Linked DNA regions of Homo sapiens: region 2 is linked to region 1. Evidence: fine-mapped expression QTL. Tissue or cell type: whole blood. Region 1 holds a variant in brackets; the other region holds the start of a gene. All regions are shown on one strand. Distances are from middle to middle.

Region 1 (11,306 bases):
TAAAAACAAGAACTTCTGAAAAATACAAAAGTACAAAAAGTTGCAAAAATTCAATTTCCTACTTTCCTCCCCAGAAATAACCACTGTTTAATTTTATTTTGTGCATATCTTTCCAGACCTTTGTCTTTGAACATACATTCATATTGAAAGGCAAAATCCTTACACAAATTTGCTAAATTAGTTATAAGATTGCTTAACTTTCTCAGGGCAATAAAGACCTGGAACATTTGGAATTAATGTCTCTATCAGGTGGCAAAAGCATCCTAACAATGTATCAATGTTTACAGATTAATTTCTAATCTTATAGAGCAGTAGTGCAGTAGTTTTTCTGTACCTTCGTCAGATGTTGGTTCTTGTCGGCTCTTCATATTTGTGGGTTTTACATTTGAGGATTCAACCAACTGCAGATCAAAATATTTTTAAAAAAGTAGTTGGGGGCGGTGGCTCACGCCTGTGATCCCAGAACTTTGGGAGAACAAGATGGGGGAGGATCATTTGAGCCCAGGAGATTGAGACCAGCCTGAGTACATGGGGAGACTCCATGTCTACAGAAAATAAAAAAATTAGCCAGGCACTGTGGTGTGTGCCTGTGGGACACAGCTACTTGGGAGGTTGTGGTGGGAGGGTCGCTTGAGCCTGAGCAGTTAAGGCTGCAGTGAGCCGGGATCATGCCACTGCAAAACTGCACTCCAGCCTGGGTGACAGAGCAAGACCCTGTCTCAAAAAAACAAAAAACAGGCTAGGCGAGGTGGCTCATGCCTGTGATCCCAGCACTTCGGGAGGCTGAGGCGGGCAGATCACCTGAGGTCGGGAGTTCGAGACCAGCCTGACCAACATGGGGAAACCCTGTCTCTACTGAAAATACAAAAAATTGGCGGGGTGCAGTGGCTCACGCCTGTAATCCCAGCATTTTGGGAGGCCGAGGTGGGTGGATCACGAGGTCAGGAGTTCGAGACCAGACTGGCCAATATGGTGAAACCCTGTCTCTACTAAAAATACAAAAATTAGTCGGGCGTGGTGGCACTCGCCTGTAGTCCCAGCTACTCGGGAGGCTGAGGCAGAAGAATCACTTGAACCTGGGAGGCAGAGGTTGCAGTGAGCCGAGATTGTGCTACTGCACTCCTGCCTGGGCAACAAGAGCAAAACTGTCTCAAAAAAACCAAAAACAAAACAAAAAAAGAGGCCTAGCACAGTGGTGTGGAGTTCCAGCTACTCAGAAGGCTGAGGTGGGAGGATTGCTTGAGCCCAGGAGTTTGAGGCTGCAGTGAGCTATGATTGTGCCACTGCACTCCAGCCTGGGCAACAGACTGAGACCCCGTCTTTTTTTTTTTTTTTTTTTTCAGATGGAGTCTCGCACTGTGGCCCAGGCTGGAGTGCAGTGGTGCGATCTCGGCTCACTGCAAGCTCCGCCTCCCGGGTTCACGCCGTTCTCCTGCCTCAGCCTCCCGGTAGCTGAGACTACAGGCGCCTGCTACCACGCCCGGCTAATTTTTTGTATTTTTAGTAGAGACGGGGTTTCACCGTGTTAGTCAGGATGGTCTTAATCTCCTGACCCCGTGATCTGCCCACCTCGGCCTCCCAAAGTGCTGGGATTACAGGCATGATCCACCGTGCCTGGCCGAAACAGTTTATTAACATGTGCCGCCTGTATACACGCCTGACCCTGTCTCTTAAAAAAAAAAAAGATTGCTTCTGTACTGAACATGTACAGACTATTTTTTCTTGTCACTAGTCCCTAAACAATACAGAATTACAACTATTTACATAGCATTTACATTGTATTATGTATTATAAGTAATCTAGAGATGATTTAAAGTGTGTAGGAGGATGTGAGTAGGTCATATGCAAATACTATGTAATTTTACATAAGAGACTTAAGCATCCGTGGATTTTGGTAACTGAGGGTGGATCCTAGAACCAATCCCACATGGATACTTATCATTTCTTACGAGTGTGACATTCGGGCAAGTGGACTTGGAAAATGATCTGGCATGGTATCAAAAATCAAGCAATTGGCTGGGCGCGGTGGCTCACGCCTGTAATCCCAGCACTTTGGGAGGCCGAGGCAGGTGGATCTCGAGGTCAGGAGATCGAGATCATCCTGGCTAACACCATGAAACCCTGTCTCTACTAAAAATACAAAAAATTAGCTGGGCGTGGTGGCAGGCACCTGTAGTCCCAGCTACTCGGGAAGCTGAGGCAGGAGAATGGCATGAACCCGGGAGGCGGAGTTTGCAGTGAGCTGAGATCGCGCCACTGTACTCTAGCCTGGGCGACAGAGTGAGACTCTATCTCAAAAAAAAAAAAAAAAAAAAAAATCAAGCAATTATCATTTACCTCTTTACAGAATTGGTATACATTTTCTTTAAATATACATAGAGTATACATATTTAAGGTATATATTTATACACACATACCTTCTCACTTGGAAGTTATGAAAGTATTTTCTAAAATTTTTTTTCTGTTAGCTTTATATCTTTATTTGGCTTAAAATTTTTAAATCCCCCCTGCCCTGCCACCAAAAGTATTTATTATTTGATATGATGTAAGGATTTTTATTTTTCTTGAAAACAAACAAAACAGCACCTGTTGAATAGTTCATCTTTCCCCACAATTTGAAAGGAAACTTTAGGTTGCTATATAGTATACATATGCACTTGAGTCTATTTCTGGACCTTATTCTTTTTCAGTGGCCAATTTGTCCCTGCTTAAATATGACAATGTTATTTTTTCTTCTTTTTTTGAGACAGAGTCTCACTATGTTGCCCAGGCTGGTCTCACAATCCTGGGCTCAAGCCAGTCTCCTCCCCCAACCTCCCAAAGTGCTGGTATTGTAGGCATGTGCCACCACGCCTGGCCAACAATGTTTTGATAGCTTTATATTTTGATATCTGGGACAGCATGTCTCCCATATTTATCCCTGTACTCAAAATATGTGATGTATGTTAATCAACTCTTCATGTTTTTATTAATAATTTATATTATTTTTAACTGGTAGAATCTAGGCATGGTCAAAAGAATAAAAGGAAAAATTAATCACACTCCCAATTCTGCATCTCAGCCATCCAGTTTGCTTCTCCAAAGGCAACTAATATTCTAGCTTCTTGGGTATCACTATATGGATATTCTATAGATCATATTTGAGTTGTTTCTATCTTTTGGCTTTTGCAAAGGTGAAATGGACATTCTTAAAAAAAATATATATATATATATATATATATATATATATATTTTTTTTTTTTAAGACGGAGTCTCGCTCTGTCGCCAGGCTGGAGTGCAGTGGTGTGATCTTGGCTCATTGCAACTTCTGCCTCCCAGGTTCAAGCGATTCTCCTGCCTTAGCCTCCCGAGTAGCTGGGACTACAGGTGCATGCCACCATACCCAGCTAATTTTTGTATTTTGCAGAGGTTGCAGTGAGCTGAGATCATGCCATTGTACTCCAGCCCAGGCAACAAGAGCAAAACTCTGTCTCAAAAAAAAAAAAAAAAAACTTAGCCAGGCATGATAGTGGGCAACTGTAATCCCAGCTACTAAAAACACAAAAAATTAGCCGGGCGTGGTGGCGGGTGCTTGTAGTCCCAGCTACTCAGGAGGCTGAGGCAGGAGAATGGCGTGAACCCGGAAGGTGGAGCTTGCAGTGAGCTGAGGTCACGCCACTGCACTCCAGCCTGGGCGACAGAGTGAGACTCCGTCTCAAAAAAATAAAATAAATAAATAAATAAATAAAATAAACTCAGTCATTCTGGTGGATAACACAGATAACTTTGTGGCTTTCCTCTTCACTATGGGGGATAACAGCTTTAACTGTTTGCTATTTGTAATTCCTATTTTATGTAATGCCTGCTTAAGACTTTAGCATGCTTGGGAAGAGGATGTACATCTTTTCCTGGTTTTCATTATGGATTTACAACTTTGCAAAATGTTTACATCTTTGAGCCACCTAGAATTAACTGTAATGGAAGGTAAGCTGTAGGAGTTCAACTCTCGTTTTCCAGCTGGCTACTCAGTTGTCACAATACTATTTATTGAACAATTCATCCTAGATAAATATAGAATCAATTTTTGTGCATGTCCATTTTTTATCTATTGGCAACTAATAAGAAGTAAAACCAACACTGCAGACAAGCATATGAGAGAAGGTATTTTAATTGAGATCTTTTATAAATTGCAATTTGAGAGACACAAATCGAGCAAGCAGCTAAATCATATTCCATACAGACAAGCTGGGCAGGGGCTTATAAAGGTTCCTGGCAAGTTTATACAAGTGGAAAATTTTAGCACAGTCTATGATTGACAATGGCTGATTGACAGCTTAGATGTCTCTTGGTGATGAACGACCTAATTTGGCACAGCTGTCTTCTCAGGAGATTTGTGATCAGGCCCAGTGTAAACAGTTCACATCAAATTCAGCTGCTTCTTTAGGATGTTTGTGATTTGGTCCAATTTGAACATGTCAAATTTCATCTGAGTATATGGGTGATGGGGGTCCAACTCCTTATGCCCTCCTGGCTCCTTTTTAGAGACCTCTGGCATAATCATCTCCATTTTGGATTTCTTTTCAGATTTTCCCCTTTTGATTTAAATATTTCCTTAGAAACCACTGAGATCAATTATTTCAGTAAGCCCTTTGGTTCTGGAATAGATTTGTCCCAGGAAGTCATGTCCCATGGAGGAGGGAGTCATGGTAATGATAGTGGATGATCTGTGTCAAATGGAATAGTCCAAATTTGAGCAACAAGGAGGAGTTGAGGATGTGGGCCCCAATTGTGGTGCACATATGTGGTTAGGGTAGGATTCATGATTGTAGGCCTAATCTGTCAGTTCAATGTGTTGAGCCACCATAATTTTAGTTTCGTTGACAGCAACAGTGTGGCATCAAGCTGAGAGAGGAGAAAAGAAAGAACCAGCTAGGAAGGCGGTTAGGGCAGGTGCTCAGTAGAATTCTTTCAAACAAAGGAACAACCTGAAAACTCAGGCTACAGATACAGATAAGGGAACTAGCACAGGCAGCTTGCCTAGGATATACCCATAGCTGCACAGATAAGGAAGCAAGGCCCAACATAGAAGCACCTTTGTTCTTTGTGTAAGCAGCAGCCTTCCAGGAAATAGTTTCTTTTCCTTTTGTGGGCATGTAGATGGTGGGCTGTGGTGAGTACATTCCTTTCCTTTTTTGGGCATACTTTGGACTGTGAGCCAAACCTCTATGAATCATCACTCCAACACTAGGCTGGTTGTGAGCCAAGGCTCCAGTTGGTCCTTTACACCATCATGCCATTTTCTAAGTGGTGCCTTTTCTAAAGACAACCACCAGTCAGCCAGCACACTAGGGGTACAGGGTGGAGCTACCAGAAATTCACAACTTATGCAATTTCAGTTATGCAAATGAAATGCCCAGACCCATCTGGTTCCTCTGGGTTCCTCATAACAGCCTTTGTACTCAATTGTGAAATGGCAACCCTCTCAGGTCCCCTCTCTGCAGTGGAGAGCTTTCCTCTTTCACTTATTAAACTTTTGCTCTAAACTCACCCTTGGTGTCCACATTCCTTACTCTTCTTGGTCATGAGACAAAGAGCTCCAGGTAATACCTCAGGCAACAAGACTACCTCAAAGCCATTTAACAAGAATATAGTTTAACGAGGATAAACATGACTAGGGTCACAAACAAGAATAACAGGATAAGTTGGAACCCAGATCTTAAAATATTTCCAATAACTGTAGGAAGCAAACAAAAAAGATCAGAAAATTCAAGATTAACCCAATTAAAAAGACTACCAGAAGGTATACCTTTTAAGGATCTGACTAATCTTGGAATCTTCGAGGTTTCCAGTACTACCTGAATTTTTTTATTATTATTATTTTTTGAGACAGGCTATCAC[G/A]TCGTCACCAGGCTGGAGTGCAGTGGTGGGATCTCAGCTCACCGCAGCCTCAACGTCCCAGGCTCAAGTGATCCTCCAACCTCAGCACCCCCTAGTAGGTGGGACTACAGGTGTGTACCACCACACCTGGCTAATTTTTGTAGTTTTATTAGGGATGGAGTTTCACCATGTTGCCCAGGCTGGTCTTGAACTCCTGCCTGCCTTGGCCTCCCAAAGTGCCGGGATTAGAAGTGTGAGCCACAGCACCCAGCCTTGAATTTTTTATTTACCCAAGCAGAACCAGAGGTGTTGGATATAGCAGACTCCTCCTTGAGCACTGAGTAAATAATCTGAAACTCTTCTATTATCTAATCTTTCACATGCTAGGGATTCTAAGGAGTTTTGTTGGGTCTAATGTCTCTTCCTACAAAGACAGCAAATTGTTACTGAACTTATGCAAATGACTATATTGCCATAAAAGAAGATTAATCACAAATGGTTTCCAAATTCTGAAGGGACCAGGTAGACAGAAATGCAAATGTTTCAATTCTGCTCACAAAAGTCTACTTTACCCAATTGATCTAAGCTATAAATAGCTTAAAGAAGAATAAAATTTTCCTTGACTCTGAAGAACAAAATATAAAGAATGTGGAATGCTTCAGATAAAAAGAACTCATAAAAAATTTCAATTCTTCATCAGTTGAGTCCCATGTAATTAATTCTTGTTTTTCTTGATGTCGGATTAGGAATCTTCATGAACACTTTAGTTTACTCATCAGAGTTCTGGAAGTTTTTACCTAGTCCAATGGTATGATCTCAAAAATTATAAAAAATCTGTATTCAAGAATGCTTGTTATGGTTTTTTTTCATGAATTTCCTTGAAGAAGCAGCAAATTTGGGGCTGCATGTCGTGTTTTATGCCTGTAATCCTAGTACTTTGCAAGGTCAAAGCGGGCAGATCACTTGAGCCCAGGAGTTCCAGAGCAGCCTGAACAACATAGTGAGACCTCATTTCTACAAAAAAATAAAAATAAATTAGCCAGCCATGGTGGCATGCGCCTGTGGTCCTAGTTACTTGGGAGGCTGAGGTGGGAGGATCACCTGAGCCCAGGAGTTCAAGGCTGCAGTGAGCTATGATCACACCACTGCATTCCAGCCTGAGTGGTGACAGAGTGAGACCCTGTCTCCAAAGAAAAAAAAAAAAAGCAAATTTTAGACTGTAGCTGATTATAAACCACCTTTTGAAGAGAATCAAGATCAAGGTAGGCCAGGTGCAGTGGCTCACGCCTGTAGTCCCAGCACTTTGGGAGGCCAAGGCGGGTGGATCACGAGGTCAGGAGTTTAAGACCAGCCTGGCCAAAATGGTGGAACCCAGTCTCTACTAAAAATACAAAAAATTCGCCAGGCGTGGTGGCAGGCACCTGTAATCCCAGCTACTTGGGAGGCTGAGGCAGGAGAACGGCATGAACCCGGGAGGCGGAGCGCTTGCAGTCAGCTGAGATCGTGCCACTGCACTCCAGCCTGGGCGACAGAGTGAGACTCAGCCTCAAAAAAAAAAAAAAAAAAAAAAAAACAAGGTAAAATAACAATTGCCTGTGGATGACAAAAGAGAATAGTCATGATTAATGATGGAACTGATAAGGAAGTATGGTTATTTCTGTGGTGTCAACAATTTAACACAATAATTAGAATTATGACTGATAACACATACCAAGATATATCAGATCTTTTTAGAAATTTTATACAATTTTGGAACACATATTAAAAATGCATTTATACAAATACAACTTCAAGAAGGTAAAACGTTATTTCTTATTTGACAATGAAATACCTCCTGTATAATTTAAGTAAAAGTTGATATTTAGGCTATGTATTTATACATATATAATACATATAAATCTTTTTTTTTTTTTTTTTTTTGAGAGAGAGAGGGTCTCACTCTATCACCCAGGCTGGAGTGCAGTGGTGTAATCATAGTTCACTACAGCCTCGAACTCTGGGGCTCGAGGGATCCTCTTGCCTCAGCCTCCAGATAGCTGGGATTATAAATGCATGCTGCCATGCTGGCTAATCAAAAAAATATATATTTGTAGAGACTTCGTCTCACTATGTTGCCCATGCTGGTCTTGAACTCCTGGCCTCAAGCAATCCTCCTACCTTGTTCTCCCAAAGTGTGGGCCATCTCACCCAGCCTGAATTCCTCTCCTCTTAAACTCCAGCTGACTATATGTGCTCCACCTCTCTGCTTTTTTTCTTGTTGACATTAATTTTGCCAAGGATAATGTAAAATTTATTTGGCTTTTTGGGAACAAGACCTCAAACTGGCTCCTCTAAGACTTGTTCTTCCATTTATATCCCTCCTTCCTCTTGCCACCTTTGCTACCACATGAGGGCAACTAACAACTATGTTTTATTATTTTTGTTTAATATTATTGAATTTTTGTTAATTGTTTGTAGAAAGAGGGTCTCGCTGTGTTGCCTAGGCTGGTCTTGAACTCCTGGCCTCAAGCAATACTCTCACCTCAGCCTCCCAAAGTGCTGGGATTATAGGCATGAGCCACTGAGCCCAGCTGGTAACGAAGACTTATAACAGTCCTGGGTCTCCTTGAGGACCCCTTGAAGGCCACATATTCCTTTTCTGGGGGTGGGAGGATCACTGTTTTCCTCGTAGAGCCCCAAGAGCTGTGGGTGGATAGGTTCCTCTCAGGTCTAACTCTCTACTCTTTTTCATATTTAACCTTGATCCTTTTGGCTTTTAGATACATACATGTGAGTTGGGCATAGTGGCACATGGCTATAATCCCAGGTACTCAGGTCGCTGAGGCAGAAAGATCATTTGAACTCAGGAGTTTGAGGCCATCCTGGACAGCATAGCGAGACCATGTCCCAAACAAAGAAACAAAGCCAAATAGACACATACATGTGTATGATATATGTTGTATCTACATGTATTTATATGTCTATACATATGTTTGTGTATTGTCTACATGGTACCAAATTAACTTAAAAATAAATGAGTGCTCATAAATAAGTTGAAATATTTTTTAAGTTTATGTGACTTTAGTAAATCTTTTGGTAGACAAGGCTAGTTTAATATTGTTGGTTTAATAAAAACAATTATGTCTCCTGAGTTGTCAGCAAAACATGCATGTATTTAACTTTAAGTTTCTTACTTTTATGATATTTACCTAACATACAGTAATAAAAAATGGTTACCTTTAGAATTTTGCTAAGCTAAATTAAATTATGGATAGTCATTGAATATCTAGGTCATTTCCAAATAAGATATAATGCTAAGACATTAATTACTAAATTCGAGTTTAAGCTTATATACTTTTGGCTCTGTTTGTTTGGTTATTTGAGACAGAGTCTCACTCTGTCACCCAGGCTGGAGTGCAGGGGCACGATCTCGGTTCATGGCAACCTCTGCCTCCCAAGTTCAAGGGATTCTCATGCTCTAAAAAGTCAAAAGTCAAAAGTCGATTTTGACTGTAGAGCTCTTAAAAAAAATCTTTTGACCAGATTTTAGATGGACAAATAGCAAACATTCCTATTTCTTGGCTTCATTTCTGAAATTTGCACCAAGAAGAAGCTTTTTGTTTTTGTTGTTTTTTGTTTGTTTGTTTTTGCAGGGGTGGGGGTATATTTGCCTATTAGAGGTCTAGAATAATCACTATTTTATTTATTTGTTTGTTTTTCCCGAGACAACTCTGTCACCCAGGCTGGAGTGCAGTGGCTCGGTCTCAGATCACTGCAACCTCCACCTCCCAGGCTCAAGTGATTCTCATGTCTCAGCCTCCTGAATAGCTGGGACTACAGGCGCGTGCCACCATGCCTGGGTAATTTTTGTGCTTTTAGTAGAGACAGGATTTCACTATGTTGGCCAGGCTGGTCTCAAACTCCAGGCCTCAAGTGATCCGCTCGCCTCAGCCTCCCAAAGTGCTGGGATTACAGGCGTGAGCCACCATGCCCAGCACTAGAATAATCACTATTTAAAGCTGTTGTCTTTGAAATGTTTTAATAAACTTGTTGAGTATGTGGTTCCATTTAGCTCAGGAGAGAAGGCTGAACAAACAAAGGAACAAAAAGTTTTCATAAATTTATAAATTTCATAAATTTAAATATAAACTATATAAATATTTTATATTTAAAATATAAACCGATGTTTAAAATCAAAGGTATACCTGAACAAATGAGAAAACCAACACAAATAAACACACAGGAGACCCAAACCAAGAAGCCCTTTTAAACCAAGCCCTTCATTAAAACTTGGCTTTAATCAAGTTTCCCAAAGAGGGAGCAAAAGTTAGCAGCCCTTACAGGATCCAGACCCTCCCAAGGACAGCTTAGAGAAAGCTTCCCTAGCAACAATTGGGGTGCAACCCCACATTTGTTCACCATATTCTCTATGGCCTCAGCTTTTCAGCCCAGTGTCTGCCAGACCTTCCACAAAGGCAGACCTTCCCTTGTGTGCCCAGCAGACAGACAATGAGAAGAGACAGTCACTAAAAGAGGAAAACAAAAGCTGCCCATGGGGGTGGAAAGAATTACAAATGGGCACCCCAAAACCTCAAGAGTCACACCAAAAATTCAAAACAATTAACCAAGCTAATTCTTATAAATGTTTCTCCCCTGAGCTAAAGACATCCCCTGAGGAAAGGAATTTTTTGGTTGGTCCGGAGAACTTTAGCTCTGTTTCAAATCCAATCTCGCTGGAATGCTGCTTAGCTAATTCCCTAAATGCTAACATTTCAAAAACATGGTAAGGTTTACATCTCCAAAGGACTGAGAAAGGCCTGGAAAATGCTGGAGTGACTTTAGTAAATCCTGCAGCAAAGTTGAGCAGGCAATTTGAACATTTAAAGAATTTTCTGCGGGTGTTAAAGGAGAACTCTCCAGAAAAAAAAGTTTTAGCCGTTAACAGTCCAAATTTCCAAAGGTTGGCCAGGTGCATTGGTTCATGCCTATAGTCCTAGCACTTTGGGAGGCCAAGGCTGGAGGATCTCTGAGTCCAGGAGTCTGAAACCAGTATGGGGAATATAGTGAGAAAGCCATCTCTACAAAAATTTTTTTTAAAAATTTAGCCAGGCATGGTGGCACATGCATGTATAAGTCTCTGCTACTTGGGAGGCTGAGGTGGGAGAATCACTTGAGCCTGGAATGTCGAGACTACAGTGAGCTGTAATTGTGCCACTGCAACCTCTGCAGCTTGTCTCAAACAAAACAAAACAAAATAAATTTCCAAAGGTATACCTCTAACTGGGACTCAAAACCTGTAAGCCTTTTTATGGTATATAATCAGATGCATAAATTATGCCTGAAGAGGGTGCAAGTATGCAGTTCCCCTCAAGATCTGAAATTTCTTCTGAAGATAGCCTAAGAAAGTAAAGACCCTCATTATCAAGGCAATGAAGGTTGAGACAATTAAGACAAATTTCCCTGAGAGATGA
Region 2 (7,959 bases), 35 kb before region 1:
ATTTATTGGGCACTTGCCATGCATCAGGAGCTGTTTAACTGTGATATGCATGAAACTCATGTAACTCTACCATAACAATCCTATGACATTAGTGCTTGTCCCCATTTTATAGATGAGAGAACAGGCAGAGGTTTATTTTCCAGGGTTGGCTGAGTGCTACAGCCAAGATCTGAACCAAAGCAGTGTGGTTACAGGGACCATGGTCTTAATCATTAGGTGAGACTTCCTAACACACTTTGTGGTTACAGATGAAAGCCCTGGACATGATCACTTTGGCTGCACGGGAAGCATCCTCCCAGAGTGGTGCTCTGCGCCACATTCCCCTATGTGCCACCAACAGTAATAAAATATAATAAAAACAATCAAATAAACACAGCACAGACAGAAGCAGACCTCTGCCCAGGTAACTTCCACCACAATTCCCTTACCAAAGACCTCTTTCCTTATTTTGCTAAGATTAACAACTGATTTTTCAGTACTATGCCAACAACATTTCTTCTCAAGCTTTGCTGTCAATTCCATTGTGACCCACAGTTTAATTTAAAACCGATGTTGATTCACTGAGCTAGTAATTTTATTCGGTAATAGGTGAATTACTCCATAGTTGAGTGTGAATAACCGCCTGGTTAAATCAGGGCGGGTTTCTTAGAGGTGATACACTTACCGTTGAGCACAACTTTACTCTTTAATTATCGTGTACATTCCCATTTCCCTCCAAACACGTCAGTCCCTCTCCACACAGTGTTTACTTCTTTGGTCCTAGGGACAGCAAGAAACATTTTATAATAAAAGAGCACATGCTAATGTGTTTACTAGATATGACACTGCTGTGCAAAACTGTTTTCTTTTATGGCTGCACTGAAAGCATGCTAAGTTTACTGAATTCTTATTAAGTGTCCTAAGTAACAGAAATAGAAACTAGGTCTGGCCTGAAAATACCATTCACTTAAGTTAGAATTTATGTGCGCTCCTCTAGGTCCGCTATTGTAGTATCACTGCAAAACAATAATACTTTATCTCTGCACTTGTCTTTATTGGATTAATATTAAACAGAAAAAAATCCGACTGCACAGGGGAAAAAACCTAAAACCTTAACATGCATGCACATTAACAGTGACTGAAACATGATTAAAGCTAACACATTTAGCAGAAAAATGCAATCCCCAAACAAGCTCTGCGGCCCGCCTACTGAAATGCACCCGCCCGCCACTAAATGAAAATGCGCCTCAAGCTCATACACATCCTTATGTTAAGACAGTATGCACTCGATGTACTACAAATAAATTGTTTTCACGGAAATGATTCCCCGAAAGTTTGCTGCTGAACTCAGGACCCTAAGGACGTTTGCTTAGGGAATCCGTGTCCCTCGAGAACACCTAAGATGGGTATGCGTTTGTGCATTTAAAAATGCCTCAAGGAACTATTGCTGAGGAACAGAAACCATCGCCGGCGCAGAAGCGTTCGCGGACCACTTGGAGATAGATGCCAGTACAGCAATTCTGTTCCAGGAGGCTTCGGCTTAAGAGGGCCGGGGAGGAGGAGAACCCTCGGGAAATAGCAAAAAAAAAAAAAGATTTTTCTTTTTCACTCCAGCGACAGGAAAGCCTTAAAAACATAAGCAGCTCTCATACCCACCCGCCTCACCAGCCGCGCCTCGCAGTTCGACAAAATGCGTCCTAGCCTTCGCCACTCGCGACCTCTACCGCGCAGAGCCAGGCAATGAGGGAAAACAGCCAGCGAGGCCCGCCCTCCGGTGCAAGGCTCGGCATCCGCGGAGGCCCAGGGCCGGCCCCGGTGCGGCGGGCAGAAGCAAGCGCGGCGGCCCGGCCCAGCTCCGGTGGGCGGACGGCGGGACGCGCGAGCCGGCGGGGCCCGAGGCCCGGGTTCCGGGGCCGCCCGCGACTGCGTCTTTGCCGCAGAACAAAAGCGCTCTGCGCCGCGCGCAGGCCCGGACCGCGAGTGCCTCTGGCTCCCGGCTCCCGGCCCCCGCCCCGCCCGGACCCCGGAAGGCGGAGGGACCTCGGGGTGCTCGTCTCACACTTACCGACAAAGGGAAGAGGACCACCCCGGCAAGCGGGGAGAAAACCGGCGGCCTCCCGGGCCCCAGAGTTTAAGTCAAGTGGGGTCCGCCTCCAGGGGCGGGTCGAGGAGCCAGGCCCAGGATCCAGGAACAGCTACGCTCCGCCTCACGCCCGAGGCGGTGGCTGCGAGGGCCGCGCCGCCGCGGTCCTAGTGCCACCAGAGAAGCCGCGGACCCGGCCCGCAGATAACACCCGGGCTTGCAGAGCGCTTTCATCTGCCCGACGCGGAAATCTCCTGCAGCGATCTTCTACCTTCAGCGTGCATCCGCAGCACCCAGAGGGCACGTTAAAGAGAGATTGAGAACCACCAGCAAAACTGCTGATTCAGTAGGTTTGGGGTGGGGCTGAAAAATGTGCATTTCTAACAAGTTCCTGAGACCGACTGTTGCTGCTGGCCTCAGGACCAATTTTTTCTATAAAGCGCATGGAAGTCAGAGTGCACCCAAGAGATTGTTAACCCTTAAAAAACAGAAAAAAAAAAAAGAAATCAACAAGTTAGAGGCAAATAAGTGTGAAAGAAAGTGGATAGTCTATTTGGGGATTCTGAAAGTCCCTGAGGAAAGTTGACTTTGGAGACCAGATCACGAAGCACGACCTCTTAATTGCCGACCTTTTGTTATAGATTAACTCCCTTATTTTCTTGTTCCCAGCTCAGACCAGATGGCATCTGAGATAAAATACGCATTGAATAAGATAAATGACCGCTTGACTATTACATCCTTAATGTGGAATGTTAAATAGACCCTTCCCAAAAAGAAACACTGCCTTGAACCAATCAAATTGCTATGCGTTAACCTTCTATGGAAAATGTTGACATCCTGTTAAGCTTCCCAGACCCTGCCTGTGTAAACGACCCTCAAACTTCTCCCTTTCGAAGCACTGACCCCCATCTTTTGGAGTCTGTGTCCTACCGGGTCGCCATCCTCAAACTTTGCACTCAAATAAACCAATATTTAATCATATTGCCCGAATCTCATTATTAAGGTTTACGTAAGCGTTTACTTAGTAATGAAGGTTGCAACCAGGATGGCAAATCAGAGATTGTGCCACTGGAGAGGGGCAAGGGAGCTTATGTTTATAGGAATTTATTTGTTACATAAATTGTCAGATTAGTTCATTGGTGAATTAAACGAAGAAGTCTTTAGTCATTACTAGAAGAGTGCGTTTGCGTCTGTCAGAAACAAAACAAAAAAACTACATACAGAATATTCTTTCTTTTTTGGGGGGGGGACGGAGTCACGCTCTGTCGCCCAGGCTGGAGTGCAGTGGCACGATCTCGGCTCACTGCAAGCTCCGCCTCCCAGGTTCACGCCATTCTGCTGCCTCAGCCTCCCAAGTAGCTGGGACTACAGGCGCCCGCCACCATGCCCGGCTAATTTTTTGTATTTTAGTAGAGACGGGGTTTCACCATGTTAGCCAGGATGGTCTCGATCTCCTGACCTCTTGATCCGCCCGCCTTAGCCTCCCAAAGTGCTGGGATTACAGGCATGAGCCACCGCGCCCGGCCAGAATATTCTTAAAGATTGGGGGTGGCCAGGTGTGGTGGCTCAGGCCTGTAACCCCAGCACTTTGTGTCACGCGCATCCGTGTGAAGAGACCACCAAACAAGCTTTGCGTGAGCAACAAGACTGTTTATTTCACCTGGGTGCAGGCGGGCTGAGTCCGAAAAGAGAGTCAGCAAAGGGTGGTGGGATTATCTTTAATTCTTATAGGTTTTGGGAGAGGCTCCGCGGAACAATGTTTTGCGGGCAGGGGGTGGATCTCACAAAGTACATTCTCAAGGGTGGGGAGAATTACAAAGAACCTTCTTAAGGGTGGGGGAGATTACAAAGAACCTTCTTAAGGGTGGGGAGAATTACAAAGAACCTTCTTAAGGGTGGGGGAGATTACAAAATACATTGATCTGTTAGGATGGGGCAGAAACAAATCACAATGGTGGAATGTCATCAGTTAAGGCTATTTTCGCTTCTTTTGTGGATCTTCAGTTGCTTCAGGCCATCTGGATGTATACGTGCAGGTCACAGGGGATATGATGGCTTAGCTTGGGCTCAGAGGCCTGACAGTTTGGGAGGCTGAGGTGGGTGAATCACTTGAAATCAGGAGTTTGAGACCAACGTGACCAACATGGTGAAACCCTGTTTCTACTAAAAATATAAAAATTAGCCAGGCGTGGTTGTGGGCACCTGTAATTCTCAGCTACTCGGGAGGCTGAGGCGGGAGAATTGCTTAAACCCAGGAAGCAGAGGTTGCAGTGAGCCGAGATCACGCCACTGCACTCCAGCGTGGGCCACAGAAAGAGTCTGTCTCATGAAACAAAACAAACAAAAAAAGATTGGGGATCAGGCGTGGTGGCTTATGCTTGTAATCCCAGCACTTTGGGGAGGATCACTTGAGGCCAGGAGTTTGAGAGAGCAGCCTTGCCAACATGGTGAACCCAATCTCTACAAAAAATATACAAAAAACAAAAAAAATTAGCCAGGAGTGGTGGCATGCGCCTGTAGTCCCAGCTACTTGGGAGGCTGAGATGGGGGGATCACTTGAGCTTGGGAGGCAGAGGTTGCAGTGAGCCAAGATTGAGCCACTGAACTCCGGCCTGGGTGACAGAGTAAGAGCCTGTCTCGGAAAATAATAATAATAATAATAATAATATTGAGACCAGCTTTCTTGGGTTGTGTGTTGTTGCAAAAACGGTTGTGTTAGATATGAATTCTAAATTTCTCTTCAAAGAATCAATATGTCAGTATGGTCAATCTTTGCCTTTTACTTTTAAACTTAACTTCCTCGTAAAGCAACCTTTTTCCATCACCTGCTCCACCCTGACTCATTTCAATCACCTGCTCCACCCTGACTCATTCCGATTTCCTGCCCCGCCTTAACCATTTTTCCTGCCAAACCGCTCACCCCATCACTCTCTTTAAATTAGCCAATCAGAATTAGTTTAGCCTGTGCGGTCTAACCCTAGCCAACAGGGGAACGACACAGCAGCAGAGGCCACGTGCATCAGGAATAAGAACCCCTTCCCCTCCCTTGCCCAGGTGTGAGCTCACCATTGCTCCATCTGTGAGGGCGCACCCGTCTATAGAAGTACATTGCCGCCGGGCGCAGTGGCTCACGCCTGTAATCCCAGTACTTTGGGAGGCCGAGGCAGGCGGATCATGAGGTCAGGAGATCAAGACCATCATGGCTAACACTAAAAAATACAAAAAATTAGCTGGGCGTGGTGGCAGGTGCCTGTAGTCCCAGCTACTCCGGAGGCTGAGGCAGGAGAATGGCATGAACCCGGGAGGCGGAGCTTGCAGTGAGCCGAGATTGCGACACGCACTCCAGCCTGGGCGACAGAGCAAGACTCTGTCTCAAAAAAAAAAAAAAAAGAAGTACATTGCCTTGCTGAGAATTAAAAAGAAAATTTATATTCGAGTGCTATTTCTTTTGCAACACCAAAACTTTATTTATAACAGTTGTTTGTGAAGGAAATATTTTTCACAGTTTCTTCGTGGGCCTCAAAGTTTAGCAGCAGCTCAGCATGGAGTCAATAGCCCAAGATGGAGTCACTGATATCAAGCCTGGAAAATTGCTAAGCTGCATTAAGGAGACTTTTTTTTTTTTTCATGCTATTGTAGTAAGGACAACATCCATTAATGCAGAGGAATCTTTTCAAAGAAAATGAAATAGACTTAGGGTTTTTATAGGAGGAAGTAAACAAGGAAATCTTGTCTGAATGATTAAGGGATGAGAAAGGGCAGAGGTGGTTAGTTAGTGCTTGTGACATAAGAGGGCAGACTATTCCTTTGCGCTTGAGGTTTGTTGGTTTTGGTTTTTAATTTTTGTAGTCTTCAGTATCTCCTATATCCACCACCATCACCACCTCCTCCATATGGATCTACATAATCTTTTCCACCATAATCTCCCCTCCCACCATCATCTCCTCTGCCTTAGAAACCTCCTTTACCACCTCCATCCCACCTCCTCCCTCTCCCCCACCACTTTCCCATCCTCCTCTACCCCAGCCAACTCTTCCACCTCCACCCCCACAGCCTCTTCTACTACCACCTCTACCTCCACAACCACCACCCCAACCACCCCTTCCGCCACTGCCTTCTTGTCTCTTTTGCCAAGGGGGCATTTCAGAGGGTGGTGGTTCAATTTCATTTGGCCAGCCTCCCCTGTCAGGCACCCTTCCCATCAGCACCTTATTAATGGCACATGCCATCATCTGGCTGGCTCCACTGCTTGTCCTAATGATCTTGGATAGATTATCATGAGCAGCAAGTAGATGCACCATTATAATCGCTGTCTTGGGTGACAAAGCATAACACTGAGGCTGGTAAATTCTTGCTGTGTCATCTTTTCTTACCTTGGCTGTATCACACCGTGCAACGGACTGTATTGCCGCATCTAATTGTTTCATAACATTCGCTAGAGGCACTCATGTTCACAGGAAAGAGCATCATTGACTCTTTCCAGTTGTTCTGCCTGTTTCAAATTTAAATTAATTTTCAGCAGAGTGGTTTTCTTTAATTTTAATAAAAAAATTAACAATTTTTAAAAATTTGAAATAAGATGGGATCTTGCTATGTCACCCAAATTGGTCTCCAACTCCTGGGCTCAAGAGATCCTCCCATCTCTGCCTCACAAAGTGCTGGGATTATAGGCATGAGCCACTGCGTCCTGCCTGTCTTTCACCTTTGATTCCACTTGGTTTAGCATAACCAGAATGTCAGAAGTTGTTTACTTGGGTACACCAAGGTTATCACACAGAACTTGAACTTCCTGATAAATTTCATTATTTTTATCTAATTGAGAATTTTAATGTTTCTTGTTCTGTAATATCTGTGAAGCTTCAAGTTCTGTACTTAAAAATAATAGGAGTTTCAAACAGTCCTTTTTATATTTTTTTATTTACAGTGGCGCGATCTCAGCTCACTGTGGGCTTGACCTCCTTGACTTAAGCAATTCTTCCACCTCAGGCCCCCAAGTAGTTGGAACAACATGCATGCACCACTACACCCAGCTGATTTTTGTATTTTTTGTAGAGATGGGGTTCACCATGTTGCCCAGGCTGGCCTTGAACTCCTGGGACTCAAGCAATCTGTCCACCTTGGTCTCCCAAAGTGCTGGGATAACAGGTGTGAGCCATTGTACCCAGCCAGTCCTCCTTTTTTAAAATGATCTTTAGTATCTCCTGATATGAGTACAGAATATGGACATGCCATTTCTTTTAAAAAAATCATTTACCTCAAGCTGGAAGCTCTCTAGATCATCTCTTCCAGCAGAAGTCATACTTTCTTCCAAGTTGCATAATGATTTTATTTGAAAGCCTAACCATATCCTGTATAGGAATTTATATAGTTTATATATCTATTCCTTTACAGTATATACCACCTTCTTCCTGTATAAAAGCCTATATATATAATCCTATACCGTATATGCTCCTACATATAGTCCACTCTGCTGCCTTCATAAGGGCTTGCTCCTCTAGCAATGGTCCCTTATACCCCAGCACCTCCAGTGTGTCTAGCACATCTCCGTCTATTGTTGGTTCAGGACCCGGCTCTGGCCCTCTAATGGCTCTTTGGCTCAAACCTGTTCAGTGCTCTTAAGTATGCCCCAAGGTTTGAATCTTGTTTTGCAGCTCCCTAGTGATAGAACTTTGTGGGAAAATCACTTCATTTTTTTGTTTTTTCGCTCTTCTGAAAAATGGGGATAACAATAATACTTACCTTATTTAATTTTTGAGATAGTTACATGAATTAGTACATATACCTCACTAGGAGCAGTTCCTGGAACATAGCTGGACACACTTGGCTCAGATAAGGGATTTTCTAGCACCTAGCCACGCAGGTCAGCAAGTAAAAACAAACCCAAGGAGAGGGACTTT

The links. PIP is the estimated chance that this variant, and not a neighbour inherited with it, causes the effect.
Region 2: it holds the start of RESF1, and the variant in region 1 is fine-mapped to the expression of RESF1 in whole blood (INTERVAL, PIP 0.91).

Annotation. Positions count from the first base shown.
Region 1 is chr12:31,916,791-31,928,096 of GRCh38, reverse strand. No RefSeq gene overlaps it. Among named protein-coding and RNA genes, the nearest start is that of LINC02422, 35 kb to the right of the region's middle. The variant G/A (reference allele first, on the strand shown) is at 5,878.
Region 2 is chr12:31,953,577-31,961,535 of GRCh38, reverse strand. RESF1 (retroelement silencing factor 1) reads right to left here and starts at 2,121. Exons shown (of 6, transcript NM_018169.4): 1 at 2,045-2,121; 2 at 665-759. It overlaps LOC105369725 (a long non-coding RNA gene), which reads left to right and starts at 2,232. Exons shown (of 2, transcript XR_931503.2): 1 at 2,232-2,408; 2 at 2,732-3,043. It also overlaps the pseudogene LOC100132543. RefSeq lists a silencer at 1,811-2,150 and enhancers at 3,203-3,996, 4,000-4,499.